Linked DNA regions of Homo sapiens: region 1 is linked to region 2. A link means that fine-mapping ties the variant in region 2 to the expression of a gene that starts in the linked region. Tissue or cell type: whole blood. Region 2 holds a variant in brackets; the other region holds the start of a gene. All regions are shown on one strand. Distances are between the middles of the regions.

The links. PIP is the estimated chance that this variant, and not a neighbour inherited with it, causes the effect.
Region 1: it holds the start of RAB34, and the variant in region 2 is fine-mapped to the expression of RAB34 in whole blood (INTERVAL, PIP above 0.99).

The regions. Positions count from the first base shown.
Region 1 is chr17:28,713,078-28,721,176 of GRCh38, forward strand. RAB34 (RAB34, member RAS oncogene family) reads right to left here and starts at 4,791. Exons shown (of 10, transcript NM_031934.6): 1 at 4,136-4,791; 2 at 3,826-3,917; 3 at 2,916-2,981; 4 at 2,723-2,824; 5 at 2,564-2,628; 6 at 2,379-2,430; 7 at 2,118-2,199; 8 at 1,955-2,045; 9 at 1,716-1,823; 10 at 1,207-1,633. The coding sequence starts at 4,189. The coding sequence ends at 1,566. It overlaps RPL23A (ribosomal protein L23a), which reads left to right and starts at 6,908. Exons shown (of 5, transcript NM_000984.6): 1 at 6,908-6,953; 2 at 7,630-7,813. The coding sequence starts at 6,929. It overlaps SNORD42B (small nucleolar RNA, C/D box 42B), which reads left to right and starts at 7,473; the gene lies at 7,473-7,539. RefSeq lists a silencer at 4,624-4,883 and enhancers at 5,564-6,164, 6,165-6,766, 6,423-6,472, 6,903-7,122, 7,463-7,622.
Region 2 is chr17:28,848,752-28,856,850 of GRCh38, forward strand. ERAL1 (Era like 12S mitochondrial rRNA chaperone 1) reads left to right here and starts at 6,265. Exons shown (of 10, transcript NM_005702.4): 1 at 6,265-6,566; 2 at 7,513-7,640; 3 at 7,754-7,831. The coding sequence starts at 6,284. It also overlaps a transcript of FAM222B not described here. RefSeq lists a silencer at 60-109 and enhancers at 5,418-5,923, 5,877-5,926, 5,924-6,430, 6,227-6,576, 6,431-6,936. The variant C/T (reference allele first, on the strand shown) is at 3,116.

The DNA.
Region 1 (8,099 bases), 140 kb before region 2:
AGAGAGTCTAGGAACTGCGAGGGAGGGGAAGCCAGGAGAAGGGAAGTGTGCAGAAAAACCAACCATCCTGGTGAGAATGGAACCAGGAATGGAACAGACAGAGCACTTGGCAACTGGGAGCCAGAATCTGCCTTCTAACTTGGACACCCCCTTAGCCTCCCAGGATGACACGAGGCCATAAGTCCTCCTTTGTTGACCCAGATGTCTGAGGTGCTTCCAGCTACTCTGGAACTCTGGGTTAGATGTCAACAGGGAGCCAGGGTCTTGGTCACCTTTCTTTCTTATAAAAGTTAATGGCATAAACAACCAAAAAAACAAACAAAAAAAAAAAAGAAAGAAAAGTTAATGGTTATAACTCCTGAGTTCAAGCAATTCTCCTGCCTCATCCTCCCAAGTAGCTGGAGTTACAGGCATGCACCACCACGCCCGGCTAATTTTTGTATTTTATTTTATTTATTTTTTTTTATGAGACAGAGTCTCGCTCTGTCACCCAGGCTGGAGTGCAGTGGTGCCATCTCGGCTCACTGCAAGCTCCGCCTGCCAGGTTCAGGCCATTCTCCTGCCTCAGCCTCCCAAGTAGCTGGGACTACAGGCACCAGCCACCACGCCTGGCTAATTTTTTGCATTTTTAGTTTCACCATGTTAGCCAGGATGGTCTCTATCTCCTGACCTCGTGATCCGCCCGCCTCAGCCTCCCAAAGTGCTGGGATTACAGGCATGAGCCACCGCGCCCGGCCTAATTTTTGGATTTTAATGGTGACGCGGGTTTCACCATGTTGGCCAGGCTGGTCTCGAACTCCTGAATCCAAGTGATCTGCCTGCCTTGGCCTCCCAAAGTGCTGAGATTACAGGCACGAGCCACCGCACCCTGCCTGGAAAAGTACTTCTTAAAGGGAAGGCAAGAAAAGGGTGAAAAAAAGAAAAAGATTCTCCAGTGGTGAAAATTTGGGTATAAGCACCAAGTAGGAGGACACGTGTGGGGAAAGGATCAGGGGAAAGGGCTCTCAAAGCCAGCCATTCAGACTTCACCCAGTGAGGGCCCAGTGCAGCCCCCAAACTGATGTTTCAGCTCCCAGCCTACCTGAACCTGCCCAGGGGCCAGGGATGGCCAGCACAGCATCCCCAGGGGACTCTAGTGCCAAAATGGCCACACAGTCATGCCCATTCCACATCCATCATCCCCAACAAAGAACTCCAGCCCCAAAGTGCTCGTAACAAAGAAATTTTAATGCATAAGGCACAGTGAGAGGCTGGAATCATTAAGCATCCTCAAACACAAAGGGCCCAGCAGGCTGAGCAAAAGAACAGAGACACTCTCCCTCACTACCACTGGGCGCCCTGGACAGTCCCCTGAGGAGTAGGGGGCATCCAGTCTTTGGCACGGTGCCTGGGGGCAGGAAGTGACTAGCATGATCCCAGCTACCCCTCTGTGGGAATACTGCCACCAAGAGGCAGCTCTTTGGTCTGGATAAAGTCAGTGCAAATGTCCAGGGGTCAAGCTCTGGAGGAATGAGGGTGGCACAGTGCCCTAGGGCTGGGCAGTCTCTGAACAGTCTCCTCAGCCCTCATGGGCAACATGTGGGCTTCTTCTTGCTGGCAGTTAGGTAGAGGTTGCTGTCATCACTGTTGATGCCTAAAGAAGGGTGGAAAATATGTGAAGCAGGGATTGGAGGCTCACTGTGCCCTCTGCCACCCTCAACCAGGCAAGCACTCACGGACAACATCCCCAATGCGTCGAGCCCCCGATTTCTCCAGCTCAGCCAGCACATTGGCCTCAAAGGTCAGTGCTGCCACACGGAAGAAGAATTCTCGGACATTCTCACCTGACACAGAGAGCAGATAGGTGCTCAGGGGCAGTGCTGGGTCTGGGGACACAGGGCACAGCTGGAGGTGTAGCAGTGAGAGGAGAGCCAGGCAAGAGTGTCACAGCAGAGCCCTAAAGCCTCCAACTCACCAGTGAGAGATGAGACTGCCCAGTACTCAGCCTTCATCTCCTGGGCCACCTGGAGGGCGTCTTTCTCCATCAGCGCATACTGAGCAGGGGTCTGAGGGAAGGCCAGAGTCAGAGGGGGGCATTCCCTCACCAAGCTGGGAAGTCCCCCCACTGGCACACTCACACTCAGATCCTTCTTGGAACCTACAAGGAAGAGAAGCACACTGGAAGGGTCATTCTCCTTCAGGGCATCGGCCAGCCACTGCCTGCCATGGGAGGTGGAAAGTAAGGGATGAGTGAGTCTGCAGGGCCCCTCCCACTGACATTCATAGGCCCAATTACCCCCTCTCTGGTCCTACATGCATTCTTCTTCTTCCTGACCACCCCTCTGTTCTGAACCCTCTCTTCCCGGAGCCTCCCATTATATTGCAGGATGCTCACTTACTTGGTATGTTCCAGAGATGCCACATCATTCAGGTTGAAGACAATGATGATGGCTGGAAGAGTGGCAGAAACAGCCCCAGGTTGACAGGGAAGACACTACTGCTCATTTCCCCAATCCTTCCAGCTCCATATGAGAAGCCATGTGCACTCTGAGACCCACCTACCCCACTTCACCCAGCCCCTTACCTTGAGCTCCTCTATAGTAGGTTGATGCAATGCATTTGAACCTCTCCTGCCCAGCGGTATCCCAACTGGAAGGAAGGAAGAGTGAAGCACAGGTATGTATCTTGGGGGGTGTGGGTGCTGGGGAGAAGGGATAGCTGGAAGGGGTGTGGAAGCACTCACAGCTGCAAACTGAAGGGAATGCCCAGCACCTCAAATCGTTCCATCTCGAAGTCCACTCCAATGGTGGCCTTGTAATTCTTATCAAAGGTGTCTTTGCAGAACCTGAGAGGGTACCAGATGCTGTGATCTGGAGCCAGCCCACCTGGCTAGGCTTGGCCCCACCCTGCCCAGCTCAGCTCCAGCACCCCCTTACCTATTAATGAGGCAAGTCTTCCCCACCGACAGGTCCCCCACCACAATGACCTTGGAGATCTTAAATCTGCTGGACACAAGAGTGGGCAAGGGGAGTGGGCACGAGCTCTTTCACCCTAGGGAGTTCCAATGCTCCCGACTAGGTCCAGAAAGGTAGCTGCACCCAGGCTGAGGGTATTATAGACACCAGGCATCCCAGGCAGCTGCGTGGACAGGTGTGCTGGGGAGGAGGAGTGTTTTGTGCTCCAGAAGCAGAGAGACATGAATTTGAATCCCAGCTCTCACACTGATTAGCTGTGTGACTTTGGACACGTTATTTAGCCTCTCTAAGCCTCAGTTTAAACATTTAAGTAAAGTTAGTATATATTTTACTGGGTCGTTGTGAAGGTTAAAATGAGATAAATGTCCTATATTCTAAGACACCCTCCCCCCCGCATTTTAATGTCTGAAATCAGGATATATCTTAAGTGATGGACTTTTCCATTCAATAAAGATGATAGTACCCAACACTGCCTGGCACACAGCAAATGCTTAATTAATGGTGCCAACTGTTATCAGTATTACCTTTAAAACCCACAATAAGACTCATCCCTGTAAGCACAGCCAGACCCCTGCCCTGGGGCTCCATGGATGCTATGTGGGGATCTGAGCAGGTGACCACCTTCCCATTTCAGACACCTTAGTCTCTACTCAGAAATCCAGCTGCCACCCTTCTACCCAACCCCATCTCATAGAACTCACAACAACCTTGTTGGGAGAAAAGGAGGGGATACAGGGGCTTAAAGAGGGGGAAATAACCATATAGCTGGTAGGGGCTGAAATGAAGCCCCAAGGGGGTGGTTGTTTACCCTCGCTATGACTACAGAGTTTCCTGGGACCTCCTCTCTTTGTTGTGGGTGTCCCTAACTCACCCCACGGTGCCTGTCCGGTGCTCCTGGCAGGCGCAGGTGACGCGGGGGTGGAAGTCTTTGTGCCCGTGCAAAGCGGCCTCCTTCCTCAGGCACTTAGTGGGAAGGATGGAAGAGAATGGAGCTTCCTACTCCTGGCCCTTGTCCCGCAGCCAAGCGGCCCGGGTAGGGGTGGAGTGCAGGGACCACCCAGAAGCACCAGGCCTAGCTGGGTGGCAGGGCTGGGCCCAGTCCTCTAACTGGTCTGGTGCCGCCTCCTCCTCGCCCACACCCCGGGCTGTAGACTGAAGCCCGACGTGGCCCCGGCGCCTACCTGGGGCAGCTCCGCCAGGACGCGATCCCTCCGCACGGGTGCCAGAATGTTCATCCTGCCTGCGGCCTTGCAGGGCGCCCTGAGAAGGCGCCGAGGCCGGATCCGCGTCAGCGACCCGGGCGCGTGGAGACCCGACGATCACCCGCGGCCGGGGTGTCCCGACTACAACTCGGGGCCACGGGGACCCTACGGGAGTCCGCGGTCTCGGAGACGCTACGACCACCGCGGGCCACGGAGATGAAACAATCACCCGGGGCCGCGGCGAGCCCAAAATCACCCGGGCCCTGGGCGTCCCGAAGATGACTCTGGGGCGAGGAGACTCTTCGGCCGCCAATTGGGGGCGGGGAGTCCCGTCTGGTGGGGGCCGGGCCCGCGCAGACCCTACGATTACGCGGGGCCGGATAGTTCCTACGATTACGCGGGGCCGGATGGTTCCTACAATAACCCGGGGCCGCGGAGACCCGACGTCATCTCGGGGCTGAGGCTGCCCTACCATTACAGAGCGGCCCGGGGGCGCGGAGCGGCCCCGCCACACGGGGTCAGTGTGGGCAGGGGCGGCGCTGCCAAGGCCCGCAGGCCGCTGGAGGAGGGGGCGAGGGGCCCAGTCCGGCTACAGGGCCTCGAGTCCCACTCCGCTCGGGCTCCGCCAACGCTGTAACACGATCCCCGGAAATTCCTGGAGAAGGGCCGCCCCCCGCCCCTCTCCTGGCGGCTCCAGGCCTCGCTGCCCGCCCTCGCCACCCCCTCCTCTCCACCCTTCTGCGTTGCCCCGCTCAGGCTCCCTCTTTTGACGCTTCACCGGGCACCAGGACCGCCCCGACCCAGGCTGGAGCCTATCCAGATAGGGACTCCCCAGGCTGCTCTCCCCTGCACCTCTATACCCGGCTGCGCCTTCATGGGGACCCTTACCCAGCCGAATTGGTGATGGGGAATCGGAGACTGCTGCGCAGCATCTGGCGATGCCAGGAACCAGCAGGGAGGGGAAAGGGGGAGAGAAGGGGCCCAAGGAGAGGCGGCGCTTCCCTCCTCAACTCCAGGCCTGGGAGGTGACTCATAGAGTCTGCCCCCTCTCGCCCTTCTGCCCTGGGAGGTCGGGGGTGAGGATGGTGGAGGGGAAGCGTGCGAAGGGGGTGCCAGGGTTAGAATGAGGTGCCCACCGAGGAGAGAGACGTCTGAAGTCTGGCGTCTTTTCCTTCAAGGCTGCTGTGTAGATTGTGAGGTGGGAGGGCTGAAGATCAAGTTCCCTCGAGGGAGGTTAAAGAAGGGCTAAGTGGACCCGGAAACTCTGCTCTTCGGGGTGGTCTCCGCTCTGGGAGGCGGGGACTCCCCTCTGGTATGGGTGTTCATTGTTCTGGCCCCATTGGAATCTATCCCCCAGGGACAACTCCTTTGTGCAAAGTCCTGCAGGATAGAAGAGGGGGCAGTGCACAATCAATTTCACCGTCAAAGGGGACATGTCTGGTTTTATGAAGGGAGAGGGAAGAAGAAAGGATCAAGTGGGGATGGGTTAGGCACACACCTTAGGAGAAGCGAACCTGAGTGTTAAGAAACCTTTCTCTGTGTCTGGAGCTGAATTTGAGGATGTAAAGATGACCAGGACACGGAAGGGAAGACTAGTTTAGGGCAGGGGATTGTGAGTGAAGTTACTAACCGGAAAAACTAGCGAATCTTGGAGAAATGTGTGGAATTTTCATAGAACTTCAAATGCATTATCAGGAAACGCAGTAAAACTTGACAGTATCAGTGTCGCAGGTAAAGAGGGGCAGGTGTGGCCGCCTTGTACTTCCTCTGACACTTCCCCCTCGTGACTCGATTATTTATTTATTTATTTATTTATTTATTTTGAGACAGGGTCTCACTCTGCCACCCAGGCTGGAATGGCTCATTGCAGCCTCGACCTCCAGGGCTGAAGCGATCCTCCCACCTCAGCCTCCCAAGGAACTGGGACTACAGGCACGCACCACCACGCCCGGCTAATTTTTGTATTCTTTTGTAGAGACAGGGTTTCGCCGTGTTGCCCAGGGTGGTCTCGAACTCCTGGGCTCGAAGCAATTCGTCCACCTCGGCCTCACAAAGTGCTGGGATTACAGGCGTGAGTCACCGCGCCCGGCCCTGACTTGATTTTTTTCTGCCACCAAATCACTGTGTTATTGATAAACCACATTCCTCTCTGGACCTCAGTTCGACCGAGCAAATCCTGCTCCAGCACTCTAGAACTTAGCTGTATCTAACTCCCGAGTCAATCCAAATGTGTTCTTTCCTCTTGGCAGCGTTCCTGCCTCCTGGCATGGCAATCCTCTTCCCTGAGACTGGCAGTTGCTCAAGATAGGAAGCTCCCGGGACCAGACCCGAGCGCCAGCCGGCTACGCCGTCCGCTGGCCTGAGCAAATAAACGCGTGTCTTCAAAAAACTACAATCCCCATGGTGGCACGCGCCTGTAGTCCCAGCTACTCTGGTGGCTGAGGCAGGAGAATGGCGTAAACCCGGGAGGCGGAGCTTACAGTGAGCCGAGATCGCGCCACTGCACTCCAGCCTGGGCGACAGAGCGCTCAAAAAAAAAACAAAAAACAAAAAACAAAAAACTACAACCCCCATGAAGCTTTAGTGCCTTTGAGGGGAGGAGTGGCGCATGTTTGTTCACGCACGAAAAAGAAATTAAACCTAACTACCGTTCCCAGAGGGCGCCGCTCTGCAAATTACCCAATCAGCTCTAAGTACAAAGCATCGCGAGTCTTTAGTGCTCTTTGGCGCTATAAGCCCGTGGGAACGAGCATTGGAGACCCTTTTCACAAGATGGCGCCGAAAGCGAAGAAGGAAGGTGTGTGTTGGTGATGGGGCCGCAGCTGGTTTACCGGGGATTGCCGCGCCGCAGAGCGAACGAATTGGGAACACGGCTGCTGGGCTAAGCCCTGAGGGCTCTGCTCCGGGGCTGCTCCCTGCGTTTCGGACACGCTGCAGTATACGTGGGCCGCGTGGGCCCAGCCTCGTGGGCTGAGTTCCGGTAGAGGGAGTTGGGGGGGGGCAACGCGGCAGGCATCATCCGCCAGGGAGGGCCAGACATTCGGTTCTGGGAAGCTACATGCATCCACTGGTTGGAGCTCCATGTCCCCGGGCCTGTAAGGAATTAGTGCCCTCAGCTTTAACCATTTTCCTTCTGGTTCATGTTCAACCGGGCTACATTACCCGCCCCTCTCTCCGCAGCGTGGTTTTGCGATGGGGTATGTGTAAAATTCGTAGGACATTTTCTGGAAAGTATCAAGCGTTCATTCAGTGCTACTTTGTTTCATAGTCGTATCCCTGGAGTTACTTAGAGTTGGTCGCTTTCGCCTCTGGTATCGTGCATATGATGGAAAAGTTTTAATCTCCTGACACTTGTGATGTCTTCAAAGGAACCACTGATGCACCTGTGGCCAGGGTGGCCCACTGCAGTTCTTGGGGCCGGAAGTGACCGATTTCTAAATCCCGCACCCACGTTTTCTTTCCTTTTCTCCCAGCTCCTGCCCCTCCTAAAGCTGAAGCCAAAGCGAAGGCTTTAAAGGCCAAGAAGGCAGTGTTGAAAGGTGTCCACAGCCACAAAAAGAAGAAGATCCGCACGTCACCCACCTTCCGGCGGCCGAAGACACTGCGACTCCGGAGACAGCCCAAATATCCTCGGAAGAGCGCTCCCAGGAGAAACAAGTCAGTACTGCCCCCTGTACCCATGAAAAGATTTGGGTATTCTCCATTGGTAATTTGGAAATTCACTCACTCTGCGTGATGGTTTCTCAAACGCAAATTGTGTCCAGTGTGCTTCTCTAATTGGAAGTATGAGGAGATTGTTTCTGCTGCATTTACAAAACTGGCAGGATCAGCCCAGAGGCCGGGCGCGGTGGCTCACGTCTGTAATCCCAGCACTTTGGGAGGCCGAGGGGGGGCGGATCACTTGAGGTCAGGGGTTCGAGACCAGCCTGAGTGACATGGAGAA
Region 2 (8,099 bases):
TCTCAAAGAAAGAAAAAAAGAAATTCAAGTAGGGAAATGGCTCAGAAGACCCGCAGTGGTTCAAATATAGGAATATATGTTGTTGTCATATAGTCTCCAGCAGGGGGCGCCACCTTCCCCTCTCCCCTGGGAGCCAAGAGTCTAGACTGGGCCACCAGCCCATACCCCTAGTCCTGGCAGCACTGATTCCCCACCAGAACTGAGCTCATGTTAAGTGGGGGATGACCCGGCCGGGCGCGGTGGCTTACGCCTATAATCCCAGCACTTTGGGAGGCCGAGGCGGGAGGATCACGAGGTTAGGAGATCGAGACCATCCTGGCTAACATGGTGAAATCTCGTCTCCACTAAAAATACAAAAAATTAGCCGGGCGTGGTGGCGGGCACCTGTAGTCCCAGCTACTGGGGAGGCTGAGGCAGGAGAATGGCGAGAACCCGGGAAGCGGAGCTTGCAGTGAGCCGAGATTGCGCCACTGCACTCCAGCCTGGGAGACAGCGAGACTCCGTCTCAAAAAAAAAAAAAAAAAGTGGGGGATGACCCAAGAAAGCACTGTAATTGACACTTAGCGATTTTCTACTCTTCGGACCCGGGGCCATGGAGCCTTGAGTAGAGTTGTTTTTTTTAAATCAGCATATCAACTTATTTTCTCTTCTACCCCAATTCCTTCCCTGCTATTCTCTACACTCCAGGAACTCACCAGCAGGGAGCAGGCCGCAGCTAATTTTGGTACCACTTAAGGGTTGCCCATTCTGGCCCCCCTTCTACTCTCTCACCCTCAAATCTTTGTATCTGGAGTGTTTTCTTCCAAGAAGCTGCAACACCCAAGGTTGGTAACTCTCATAACCAACCCACACAAGCGCCCACCTCCTCTTTAGGAAGTGGCCAAATTTGGCATTTTTTTCATTACAGCCTGCCATTCCTAGATGTTTTCTACATTAAAGAAGAAGAAAAAAAATCACTGTTTTCTCCTTAACTTCAAGCTACCACTCTCTCCTCTTTCCCTATAAGGGAAGAGAAAACAAAAAGTTGAAATGTAAAAATTCCCCTCCTCACCAGGCGCAGTGGCTCACGCCTGTAATCCCAGCACTTTGGGAGGCCGAGGAGGGCGGATCACCTGAGATTGGGAGTTCGAGACCAGCCTGACCAACATGGAGAAACCCCGTCTCTACTAAAAATACAAAAAATTAGCCAGGCGTGGTGGCGCATGCCTGTAATCCCAACTACTCAGGAGGCTAAGGCAGGAGAATCACTTAGAACCCAGGAGGCAGAGGTTGCAGTGAGCCGAGGTCATGCCATTGCACTCCAACCTGGCCAACAAGAGTGAAACTCTGTCTCAAAAAAAAATTCCCCCTCCTCCCATTATTTAAGCTATTGTCCTATTGTCATCACTCTCTTCTCTGCCCCATAAAGCTGTGAAGCCCTTTGCCTCACTCTTGATAGCATGAGGGGCCAGCGGGCAGGGATTGCGATTTGAATTTCTGAACTGTTTTTCCTTCCACTCTGGGTACTTGCTCAGGCATTGGAGTCTCCTCACCCTTGGCCATATGAGTTTCTTTTTTTTTTTCTTTTTAAGACAGAGTCTTGCTCTGTCGCCCGGGCTGGAGTGCAGTGGTGCGATCTCGGCTCACTGCAAGCCCCGCTTCCTGGGTTCACGCCATTCTCCTGCCTCAGCCTCCCAAGTAGCTGGGACTACAAGTGCCTGACACCACGCCCGGCTTTTTTGTATTTTTAGTAGAGACAGAGTTTCACCGTGTTAGCCAGGATGGTCTCGATCTCCTGACCTTGTGATCCGCCCACCTCGGCCTCCCGAAGTGCTGGGATTAGAGGCTTGAGCCACCGCGCCCGGCCGGCCACATGAGTTTCTTTAGAATCCTTTGGTCAACTGGGACCTTGATTTTGAAACAGTTTAGTCTCGGGTATTTTTGTTCTGTTTGTTCTGTTTGTAGGTTCTGTCTGTTTGCCTATTTTCTTCTGTCTGTCGGTTTTTGTTGTTTTCATCATTGTGGTTCTAGAAACTTCTCGTGTGCAGTGTCTGACCAATTTTGAACAGGTTCTTTCTATAAAAATCAAAAATTGTAAAAAAATGTTCCGCCAGGCATGGCAGCTCACACCTGTAATCCCAACGCTTTGGGAGGCCAAGGTGGGCAAATCACAAGGTTAGGAGTTTGAGACAAGCCTGGCCAATATGGTGAAACCCCGTCTGTACTAAAACTACAAAAATTAGCCGGGCTTGGTGGGGTGCGCCTGTAATCCCACCTACTCAGGAGGCTGAGGCAGAAGAATTGCTTGAACCCAGGAGGTGGAGGTTGCAGTGAGCTGAGATCGCACCGCTGCACTCCAGCCTGGGCGACAGAGGGAGACTCCATCTCAAAACAAAACAAAACAAAACAAAAAAATGTTCCAAGGCTAGGGGCAGTAACTCACACCTGTAATCTCAGCACTTTGGGAGGTCAAAGCAGATGGCTTACTTGAGCCCAGGAGTTCAAGACCAGCCTGGGCCAAGCCAGGCATGGTGGCTCACACCTGTAAGCCCAGCACTTTGGGAGGCCGAGGTGGGTGGATCACCTGAGGTCAGGAGTTCGAGACCAGCCTGGCCAACATGGTGAAACCCCATCTCTACTAAAAATACAAAAAATTAGCCGGGCGTGGTGGCAGAAGACTGTAACCCCACCTACTTGGGAGCCTGAGGCAGGAAAATAGCTTGAACCCGGGAGGCAGAGGTTGCAGTGAGCCAAGATCATGCCATTGCACTCCAGCCTGGGAGTCTCAAACGAACAAACAAACAAACAAAAGACCAACCTGGGCAACATGGTGACAGCCTGTCTCTATAAAAAATACAGAAATTAGGCTAGGTGCAGTGACTCATCCCTGTAATCCCAGCACTTTGGGACGCCAAGGCGGGCAGATCACCGGGTCAGGAGTTTGAGACCAGCCTAGCCAACATGGCGAAACCCTGTCTCTACTAAAAATACAAAAATTAGCCAGTGTGGTGGCGGGCACCTGTAATCCCAGCTACTCGGGAGGCTGAGCCAGGAGAATCACTTGAACCAGGGAGGTGGAGGTTGCAGTGAGCTGAGATCGCACCACTGCACTCCAGCCTGGGCAATGAGAAAGACT[C/T]CATCTCAAAAAAAAAAAAAAAACCAAAAACAGAAATTAGCTGGGCGTGGTCAGGCACATCTGTAGTCCCAGCTACCTGGGAGGCTAAAATGGGGGAATCACCTGAGCCCAGGAGGTGGAGGTTGCAGTGCGCCAAAATTAAACCACTACACTCCAGCTCAGACAACAGAGTGAGACTGTGGCTCAAAAAAATTTTTTTTTAATTAAAAAAAGCAACGTGGCCTGGCGCGGTGGCTCACGCCTGCAATCCTAGCACTTTGGGAGGCCAAGGCGGGTGGATCACGAGGTCAGGAGATCGAGACCATCCAGGCTAACACAGTAAAACACCGTCTCTACTAAAAATACAAAAAATTAGCCGGGCATGGTGGTGGGCGCCTGCAGTCTCAGCTACTCGGGAGGCTGAGGCAGGAGAATGGCCTGAACCCGGGAGGCAGAGCCAAGATCGTGCCACTGCACTCCAGCCTGGGCGACAGAGCGAGACTCTGTCTCCAAAAAAAAATGTTCAGGCCAGGTACAGTGACTCACGCCTGTTATCTCAGCACTTTGGGAGATGGAGTAGGCAGAGTTCAAGACCAACCTGGAATACATGGTGAAACCCCATCTGTACAAAAAAATTACCAAAAAATTAGCCGGATGTGGTGGCCCGCATCTGTAGTCCCAGCTACTTGGGAGGCTGAAGAGGGAGGATTGCTTGGGTCTGGGAGGTGGAGGTTGCAGTGAGATTCAACCATTGCACTCCAGCCTAGGGGAGCCAGACTCCATCTCAGTAAGAATAAAATTTTCCTCTTAAAAAAGAAAAGAAAATCCTCTGTTAACCCCACAGCCCTCTCCTGCTCAATACTGGTCCTCAATATCCAAGGGTTCAGCATCCAGGAATTCAACCAACTGAAGAAAAAAATATCTGGGGAAAGGCCAAGCATGGTGTCTCATGCCTGTAAACTCGCACTTGGGGAGGCCAAGGCAGAGGATCACTTGAGGCAAGGAGTTCGTAACCAGCCTGGGCAACATAGTGAGACTCTGTCTCTGCAAAAGATTTAAAAATTAGCACTGGGCGAGGTGGCTGACGCCTGTAATCCCAGCGCATTGGGAGGTTGAGGTGGGCGGATCACCTGAGGTCGGGAGTTCAAGACCAGCCTGACCAACATGGAGAAACCCCGTCTCTACTGAAAATACAAAATTAGCCGGGCATGGTGGTGTATGCCTGTGATCCCAGCTACTCGGGAGGCTGAGGCAGGAAAATCACTTCAACCCGGGAAGTAGAGGTTGCAGTGAGCCAAGATTGCACCATTGCACTGAAGCCTGGGCAACAAGAGTGAAACTCTGTCTCAAAAAAAAAAAAAAAAAAGAATTACTAGGCATGGCAGCGGCAGGTCTGTAGTCACAGCTACTAGCAGGGCTGAGGTGGGAGGAACGCTTGAGACTGGGAGGTCGAGGCTGTAGTGAGCCATGATTGCACCACTGCACTCCAGTCTGGGTGAGAGAGCAAGACCCTGTCTCAAAAAAATAAAAATAAAAGAAAGAATGGGAGAAGAGAAATTGAGGATAGCCAGAATATACAGTGGTGTCTTCCCAGGGAATTTAGATACCATAATTTCCACCCTCCCATCCTATGGATACCAAAATCTGCTGATTCTCTTGTAGTAAGAGATGACTTTAAGTCATCTTAAAGTCTCTAGATTACTTATAATATCTAATACAATGTAAGTGCTATATAAATAGTTGTTATACTGTATTGTGTTGTATTTTTGTTGCTATTGTTATTTTAGAGATGGGGTCCCTGAAATCCCGTGATAGAGATTTCTGTCTGTTTTGTTCACTGATGTATTCCCAGCACAGGACAGAGCTTGCTAGTGGATGCTTTATACATCTTCCTCCATAGTCAGGCATGTTAGCATGTGCCTGTAGTCCTAGCTACTCAAGAGGGCTGAAACTGGAAGATCGCTTGAACCCAAGAGTTTCAGGCTCCAGTGAGCTATGATCATGCCACTGCACTCCAGCCTGGGTGACAGAATGAGCACTGACTCTAAGAACCTTCCTTCCTCAACACCCCCTCTACCAAAGTTTATCTCTGTTTCTTTTTTTTTTTTTTTTTTTTGAGATGGAGTCTCGCTCTATCGCCCAGGCTGGAGTGCAGTGGTGCAATCTCAGCTCACTGCAAGCTCCGCCTCCCAGGTTCACGCCATTCTCCTGCCTCAGCCTCCTGAGTAGCTGGGACTACAGGCGCCCGCCACCACGCCCGGCTAATTTTTTGTATTTTTAGTAGAGACCGGGTTTCACCGTATTAGCCAGGATGGTCTCGATCTCCTGACCTCGTGATCCGCCCGCCTCGGCCTCCCAAAGTGCTGGGATTACAGGCGTGAGCCACCGCGCCCAGCTCTCTGTTTCAAGTGTTTGATTTAGAGGCTACAAAGGATGAAGAGGGCTCAAGGCCTCAAACAGAGCAAGGTAAATGAGTTTCTCCGGCTGCTAGAGCGGTCTAGGAGACCTTAGGTGGCTAAGCCACTTCTTCCTCCTTTGCAAACCCTCTGGTTGTTCTCCATAAAGGAATGACCTCAGATAGTAGACAGTAGCCAAGGCTTACAGGAGGGAAATCCAGACCTGCTCTTCATCCCAAACACCGACCCAAGGACCACTCCTTCCAGGAACCTAGCCTAAAGCAAAGGTGCAGACAGCCCGGGGCCACCGCTGACCTCTAGGGCAAGCCAAATTAAGGCTGGGAGAGGATCCTGCAGGCCAAAGGATGGAAAGGACTAGGAACAAACAACAACAAAACCCTTACGGGGACAGGCGGAACAGTGCCCCCTCCCACTCCCACAACCATTCCTCCCTCGATGGGAGGACGATTTCTGCTATTTGGCCTCATGGGAAATGTAGTCTTTTAGGAGACATGGCCAGAAGGGCCGTTTACAAAACTTTGGCAGAAGAAAAAAATACGTTGTGTATGGGAGTCCAAAACTACCGTCATGCTTGCACAGACTCTAAATACACATTTTCCCCTTTCCTTAGCCTCCACCAGTCTCCAGAGCAATTCCTCCTCCCGCCCACATCCCATGTGTCTCGGCTTTCAATTTGGGCAGACCTACCTCTCTCCTACTCGCTGGTTCGTCAGCCGCTCTGTTCAATCGTAGGAGCGCTCCTGGTCGGTTCCCGCAGTGCCTTGCGGCTGTAATGGCTGCCCCCAGCTGGCGCGGGGCTAGGCTTGTTCAATCGGTGTTAAGAGTCTGGCAGGTGGGCCCTCATGTCGCGAGGGAGCGGGTGATCCCTTTTTCCTCACTCTTAGGCTTCCAACGGAGGTGCGTGTCCTGCGTCGCGGGGTCCGCTTTCTCTGGTCCCCGCTTGGCCTCGGCTTCTCGCAGTAATGGCCAGGGCTCTGCCCTGGACCACTTCCTCGGATTCTCTCAGCCCGACAGTTCGGTGACTCCTTGCGTCCCCGCGGTGTCCATGAACAGAGGTAAAGCGCCCTGATAGGTTTGCTCGGAACTGTCATGTTTTTAGTATTGAAAGGTTTCTGGGGATACTGTCTTTGATTCTATTTTATAGAAAACAATTTTGAGGCCCTGACAGGGAGGAGCAGTGAAAAATCTCTCAGGAGAGAAATAACAGTTTGAGTGGGAGAAGGAAACGATCTGGTCACAACCAGAGACGCTCACTAAAGAGCATGAGATTGAAGGGCCACAAAGTGGAACTATGGCTCTGCACCCCGACATGGGAAGCAAATTTGATCCAGTAAATGCATGTTGGGCCTCATCTTCTTGTTAAGACACAGTTACACCTGGAAAACAGCACACTTTATTCTTCAAACAGTGTCCGGTATTGGAGACTGGACACAAACTGGTCATTGCAAAATGGTGTCATAAGAAGATAATATAAAAAGACTGGGCCCTCTCCCTTCTTGACCCTTAGCCCTTCCTCCCGTCCCTCCTTCAGGAAAAAAAAAAAAAAAGACTGGGAAAGCTTGCAGGGCCTTCATAGCACCCTTAGTAGGGTGAGAGAATGAGAGCTGAGGAAATATCTGGCTTTGTGTAATCCAGCTTGCTTTCATGTACATTCACTTCTCAGGCACAGCTATACATTATAATTACATGCAGTAATTATTAAGTGCCAGGTATTGTGCTGAGTTGTTTTACACAATTGCTAGTCATCAAAAAAATTATAAGCTGGTAAGTAGGTACTGTTAATATCAACTCACTTTTACATATGAGAAAACTAAAGGGCTCAGGGAGTTACTTTATAAATTAATGTAAATTAAGGGCCAAAGTCTCAAAGTCAGCTCTAGGTGACTTCAACCTGGTGCACTAATTTTGTACCCCTGCTCCCTTTGTGGGTGGGCAGGAACAAGCACTTGACAGGAAATCCAGATTCCACTGTGTCTCATGCTTCTTCCCACTTGCACATAGATGAGCAGGATGTCCTCTTGGTCCATCACCCTGATATGCCTGAGAATTCCCGGGTCCTACGAGTGGTCCTCCTGGGAGCCCCGAATGCAGGGAAGTCAACACTCTCCAACCAGCTACTGGGCCGAAAGGTATGCTACACCCTTGACCATCCTACCCTTTACATCTTTTACTTCTTGCCATGCCTTCAAGGATGGTCTTGGAGGGATCTGGGACCTCACTGAGACTCCTTTGTTCCTGGCAGGTGTTCCCTGTTTCCAGGAAGGTGCATACTACTCGCTGCCAAGCTCTGGGGGTCATCACAGAGAAGGAGACCCAGGTGGTGGGTACCTACAAAGGGAGTCCTTGAAACAGGACAGAGGGTGAAGCTAAGAGGGTCTCCCTTACCATCAGCCTTGAAGAAAATGATGGTCACATTCATTTATGTGAGGAAAGGGGGTTTCTTTTCTTTTTCTTTTTTTTTTTTTTTGAGATGGAGTCTCACTCTGTCTCCCAGGCTGGAGTGCAGTGACGCGATCTTGGCTCACTGCAAGCTCCACCTCCCAGGTTGACGCCATTCTCCTGCCTCAGCCTCCTGAGTAGCTGGGACT